Linked DNA regions of Homo sapiens. The gene in region 2 interacts genetically with the main gene of each other region. Each region holds a gene or a part of one and is shown on either strand. Other genes may lie near its edges.

Evidence for each region.
Region 1: changes in KPNA3 (region 2) and ACACA together harm fitness more than expected from each alone (negative genetic interaction), as found in Homo sapiens cells (one large-scale study listed by BioGRID).

What each region holds. Positions count from the first base shown.
Region 1 is NC_000017.11:37,084,453-37,086,953, forward strand, and holds the end of ACACA (acetyl-CoA carboxylase 1), read right to left. Parts: 3' UTR 540-2,501; downstream 1-539. UniProt on the Homo sapiens protein: Cytosolic enzyme that catalyzes the carboxylation of acetyl-CoA to malonyl-CoA, the first and rate-limiting step of de novo fatty acid biosynthesis.
Region 2 is NC_000013.11:49,723,031-49,726,858, reverse strand, and holds part of KPNA3 (importin subunit alpha-4), read left to right. Parts: intron 1-1,357; coding exon 1,358-1,443; intron 1,444-3,828. UniProt on the Homo sapiens protein: Functions in nuclear protein import as an adapter protein for nuclear receptor KPNB1. Binds specifically and directly to substrates containing either a simple or bipartite NLS motif.

The DNA.
Region 1 (2,501 bases), on a different chromosome or scaffold from region 2:
AATCTAAAACCTTCCTCTCAAATCTCTAACAAGGGCCATGCGGCCCCAGTGTTTACACTGAGTTATCAGAGCACTCTCAACTTCCTGTATGCTGAGAAGGGACTTCTGAGGAGGACAGTGGGCTCTGGGCTTCCAAGGCCTGGAGCTGTTATCCTCACTAAACAGCTGTGGTCTTTCTTGTCCCTGCTCTAAAGACATTCTCTTTTGGAGGGGACATTCCTGCCAGGACTCCCATCCAGCTCTCAGCAGGAAGAAGTTTCCCATCCTGAAAAACTCAACAGAAACTAAAAAACTGACCCTCTGCTACGGGGTTCCCGAGCATTTGTAGCCTTTCAGAGTTTGACCTTGATTCAGCGGATAAGACAGGGCTGGCCAAGGCCAGCTTTTTACTGCCTACCCATCATCTTTATGCAAGTTCAGGAGACAAAGGGCTTTAGGTGTTACAGGGCCATGGAGGGGCTTGCCCCACACTGAGCCCCTGCTGAAAGCAGAACAAGAAATGAGGTGGCTGGGCATGGATTGAAATGACAAACTGTAACTCTTCTACAAATGTAGAGGTTTATTTCAACAAAATGTGTAAAGAGTGCATCTGAAGCTCCTGCTCATCACAGTATGTGTCCATCAAATTCTGAGACAAGTGAAGGCTGTTTTGTGAACGAAGAGAACAGATAATATGGCGGTCTCCGTCCAAGCAGGTCTTGGTCAATATCCATCATTTATACTCCTCCTGCCTTAGTAGCCTTGCATGTTTGAGGGGCTGTGGGAATGTCAGATTGCTCATGTTCTGTGCCTCCAACTTGAAAAAATCCTTGTCCAGGGTAAGACCTACAGTAAGGAGCTCTGGGGATGGGGGAGGAGGCATTACAGGGTTCTAGAGAGGAAACATACTCGTTTGTGTCATAATTTGGTGGGGAGAGGGGAGGTAAATGAGTGTAACCCACCCTGCCTCTGAAGACATGCCTGGACAGGCCTCCTGGGGGGTGCAGGACTTCATACCACTTGTAGATATGTGGGATTTGATTTATTGCAAAAAAGCATAGAAGAATAATCTGGTCAAAAATGAATCCAATTCTTACTAGGTAAGCAAATAGCCAGCAATGGTCAATGCATTTTCCTGGACTGAGAATTGTCCCCCACCACTTTATGCCCTTTTCTGAAGGTGCTGAACACCTGTACCTTCCACCAGGGCAGCCGGGCTGAGGCTCTGACTCCTGGGGGCTGTCCGCTCCATACCCAGCCATACAGTGCCCACCTGCAACCCAGAACCATTGAAAAGTCCAGCCAATCTATCCGCACAGATTCCTCCTGAAGAAGGGGAGGTGGAGCTCGTTCTTGTGTGCAAACTACAGGGTTAAGGCTCAGAACTGTGGCTTGTCCAAGAACGTTCATACCACTGCTTCTCAAATGTCTTAGTGATTTCCTCCTTGGTCATCAGTGACAAATGCAGTTAGCTGCACTAAAGGAACCGGATGCTACACCAGCCCTGATCACCTGCCACTCTTGCTTTAGGAACAGAGGAATCAGTAAGTTCTTTTCTTGAATAAACTAGTTGTTGAAAGTAAACTCTCTCCACCACCTGAGGAAGCCCCTGATGCCAGTCAGGAGGGGCCAGTAAGCCTGGAGGACAGCAGCACCATGACTGAGTTGTAAATAATCTTAAGGTCATGTGGATTCTGTGTTTCCTGGAAGCCTCCCTCATCAGGAAGGCCAGCTCCTGGTGCTGAGGGTGTAGCTGTCACCAGGGTCCTTTCAGAGCTGTGGGGAGACCTGCTGCCTGTCTACACTCTGGGGAAGAGAGTAGAACCGTTAGCTGCTAGGACAGTAATCCTGGAACTAGGGAAGAGTGAGTGTGGAGGCACCATTAACCTCTCAAAACCATCCAAGCTCCAGGCTTCATAGGAACAACTTTCCAAGTCCTCAAAACAAACAGACTATCTATCTATCTCACTGGCTCTCCACATGGCATAAATAACTAGTTTCCACCAGTGCAGAAAGGGCAGTTCTCTTCTGGCTCCTCCTCTGCCAACTCAGGCTTCACCACCTGTGGAACTGCTGGGGCCCCTCAAGCACTGGCCTTGCAGCTCCCAGCCACATGCGACAGCTAGTCCAGCAGTGACGTGCAGGCGAGAGGCAGGCCAACAACTACCTTTCCCTTTGTCCTCAGAGACTGAACCCAAGGTTGAGGTCCCCTAAATCAAGAATAACTGGTTCTATTTTCTTTCTCTGCTTCTTGGCTCACAGTTTTGCCCTCATCTTTGAGTTCCTATGGAGCTTGTAGTAGATTTTATGCTCTAATTTTTCTTCATAAAAGGTACCGTAGTGTGGTTAAACTGGGAATCATTCCTCTCCAGTGCCTACTGTGTGCTGGGCTAAGAGTCGGGGTAATAAACAATGGACTTGAGGCTTCCTCCTCTCCTTAGCCCTCCTCTGCTGCCTGTGGCTGCGGCTCATGGGGCCAGGAGTGAGGGGGGCTGCTCACTGCTGGGCAACTCCTCACGCTT
Region 2 (3,828 bases):
ATCCCACCCCCGCCCAGCATCCCAAGTAGCTGGGACTACAGGTGTGTACCACCACATCTGGCTGATTTTTTTATTTTTTGTAAAAATGGGGTCTCACCGTGTTGCCCAGGCTGGTTTCGAACTTTTTGGCTCAAGCGATCTGCCTGCCTCAGCCTCCCAAAGTGCTGGGACTACAGGTGTAAGCCCCAACATGTCTTTTAATAGGTCTCTCCTATATCAGCCTTTAACCTTTTTTAGCCATTCTGCATACCATTGATTTGAACATTATTTTCTTTCCTCCCTTTTTCAATGCCCCATCCTTAGCATATCTGTAGAATACACTCCTCACTCCCATCCTGAAACACACACACACATGCACAAACACCCTGTTACTTGCTTCTTAGTTAGTTTCAGCTCTCTTGATCTAATCCTTGTCGTTCCTACACATCATGATCCTTCCATGCATGATACCTGTTTTATTTCCCACTGTCACTGCCTTTCTTTTTAAATCCATCTTTGAAAAGCTAGTTCAGTTGTCACTTTCTTTGTGAGGTCTTCCATTACTATTCGAAAATATAATGATCTTGTTTTTTCAACAAAATTATACAGCCTTGTAATATCCCTAGTATGTAAAGCAGATGGTGTAATGGAGACAGATGGGGTTCTAGCTTTAAGACCAGCCTAGAGCGTGTGATAGTGGTTAAAGTGAGATGATGAGGGCCTCAACTAGCACTTGATATTAGGGGTGATTATATAAATGTAAGAAATGTTTAAGAGGTAAAATCGACATGATATATTGATTAGATGTGTCTGTGGAGAGGAAGTCGAAGTCAAGGGAAATAATGACTGGCTAAATGTTGTAATACCAGTGGACATAAAGAAGCAGGTTCATAGTGACTGGCTTTGGGAGCCAAAGAGATTTTTTAAGTAGAGATGGCTGCTGGGTGCAGTGGCTCATGCCTATAATCCCAGCACTTTGGGAAGCCGAGGTGGGCAGATCACCTGAAGTCAGGGGTTCAGGACCAGCCTGGCCAACATAGTGAAACCCTATCTCTACTAAAAGTACAAAAATGAGCCAGGTGTGGTGATGTGCACCTGTAATCCCAGCTACTTGGGAGGTGGAGACGAGAATCACTTGAACCCCAGAGGCAGAGATTGCAATGAGTCAAGATGGCGCCACTGCACTCCCGCCTGGGTGATGGAGGGAGACTCCATCTCAAAAAAAAAAAAAAAGTAGGGTTGGCTAGCAGGCAATTGGATTATAACAAGGTGAAATTCAAGGACAAGGCAAAGAATAGCCATATCTTATCAGTCTTAAGATTCATTAATTTAAGTGGTAGTTATGTGTCTAAAAAGATGTGTTATTGTTTTTTTACAGTCCTTCATTACAGTTTGAAGCTGCTTGGGCATTAACTAACATAGCATCAGGAACTTCTGCACAGACTCAAGCTGTTGTGCAGTCTAGTAAGTAAATTCCTTACTGTCTGAACTTTTTGTGTTTTAATGATGGCAAGGAAGTAGAGTTTTGTAATAAAGAAATTTTATCTTGTAACATTTTTTAAATGATGACTTTTATAAGTTACTTTTGATGACCGATATCTTTTTCATAGCCGTCATTAATTTATCATGAAAAATTTTTAATTGTGGTTATTAAAAGAAGAGTAGAGTTTTATCTTTTGGAGTAGACATCATGCTGTGATAACAGGATTTTAAATTCCGTTTCTGATATCTTCAAGATGCTGAATGGCTTCTGCCTTTTAGCTTATGACATATTTTAAATTTTACTTTCCTCAAGATGGGCTAATAATTATTGTTAAATGACACTGACACAAGCTCTTTAGAAAAGTACTAGATATCACCACGTACGTTATTATAGTATGGGACACTTAGCTAATTTTAGGTGTGGTAATCAAGGTGATTTTAAGTAGCATGTGATATGGCAGTAAGTTACATTGAATCATGTATTGAGAATACTATTCTCACCAGACCCACAGGTGGCTCATGCCTCTAATCCCAGCACTTTGGGAGGCTAAGGCAAGCAGATCACTTGAGTTCAGGAGTTCAAGAACAGCCTAGGTGACATGACAAAATCGTGTCTCTACAAAATATTTAAAAATTAGCATTGCATGGTGGCGCATGCCTATAGTCGCACCTACTCAGGAGACAGAGGCGAGAGGATCGCTTGAGCCAGGGAGGCAGAGGTTGCAGTGAGCCGAGACTGCACACTGCATTCCAGCCCCGGCGACAGAGTGAGACCCTATCTCAAAAACAAAGGCTGGGTGCAGTGGCTCAAGCCTGTAATCCCAGCACTTTGGGAGGCCGAGGCGGGTGGATCACGAGGTCAGGAGATCAAGACCATCCTTGCTAACATGGTGAAACCCTGTCTCTACTAAAAATACAAAAACAAAATTAGCCGGGCATGGTGGCGGGCGCCTGTAGTCCCAGCTGCTTGGGAGGCTGAGGCGGGAGAATGGCGTGAACCCGGGAGGCGGAGCTTGCAGTGAGCCGAGATCGTGCCGCTGCACTCCAGCCTGGGTGACAAAGCGAGACTCCACCTCAAAAAAAAAAAAAAAGTTATCATGTGACCCAGCAGTTCTACTCCTAGGTGAAACCAAGAGATATGAAAACATATTCATACAAACACTTGTACATAAATATTCACAGCAATGTTATTCATAACTAACCCAAATGTTCATTAACCGAGGAGTGGATAAAGTGAATGTGGTGTATACAATGGAATACAATTCAGCAGTAAAAAAGAATGAAGTACCAATACCTGTTACCACATGGATGAACCTGAAGAATGTTAAGTGAAGTCAGACCCCCCAAAAAACACAGTATGATTTCATTTGTATGAAATGTCCAGAATAGGCAAATCTGTAAAGACAGAAAGCAGATATTTAATGGTTGCCTGCCGCTTGGGGAATGTGTGGCAGAGGAACAAATGTGGAATGACTGCCTTAAGTATGAGATTTCTTTTTTCTTTTTTCTTTTCTTTTTTTTTTTTTTTTAAGACGGAGTCTCGCTCTGTCGCCAGGCTGGAGTGCAGTGGCGTGATCTCAGCTCACTGCAACTTCCGTCTCCTGGGTTCAAGCAATTCTCCTGCCTCACCCTCCCAAGTAGCTGGGACTACAGGCACACACCACCATGTCCAGCTAATTTTTGTATTTTTAGTAGAGACGGGGTTTCACTATGTTGGCCAGGATGGTCTCAACCTCTTGACCTCGTGATCTGCCCGCCTCGCTTCCCAAAGTGCTGAGATTATAGGTGTGAGCCACTGTGCCCGGCTGAGTATGATATTTTTTTTTTTTGAGACAGAGTCTTGCTCTGTCACCCAGGCTGGAGTGCAGTGGCACGATCTTGGCTCACTGCAACCTCCGTCTCCCTGGTTCAAGCAGTTCTCTGCCTCAGCCTCCAAAGTAGCTGGGATTACAGGCGCCCACCACCACGCCCGGCTAATTTTTATATTTTTAGTAGAGACAGGGTTTCACCATCTTGGCCAGGCTGGTCTTGAACTCCTGACCTGGTGATCCATCTGCCTCGGCCTCCCAGAGTGTTAGGATTACAGGCATGAGCCATCATACCCAGCCAAGATTTCTTTTGAGGTCCTGGAAATGTTATAAAATTAGATTGTGGCGATGTCCTCACAACTCTGTATAAATATGAAATGTCATTGAATTACACACTTAAATGTAAATTTATTGTAATTATATCTCCGTAAAGTTGTTAAAACTGAATTAATTTAAATTTTAAGTAAATAATACAAGTAATACACAGATACAGCAAAAAAAAAAAAATGAGGTAGTGCACAGTTGATTGAAATTTTTAAAAAGTGATCTAGCTTATGCT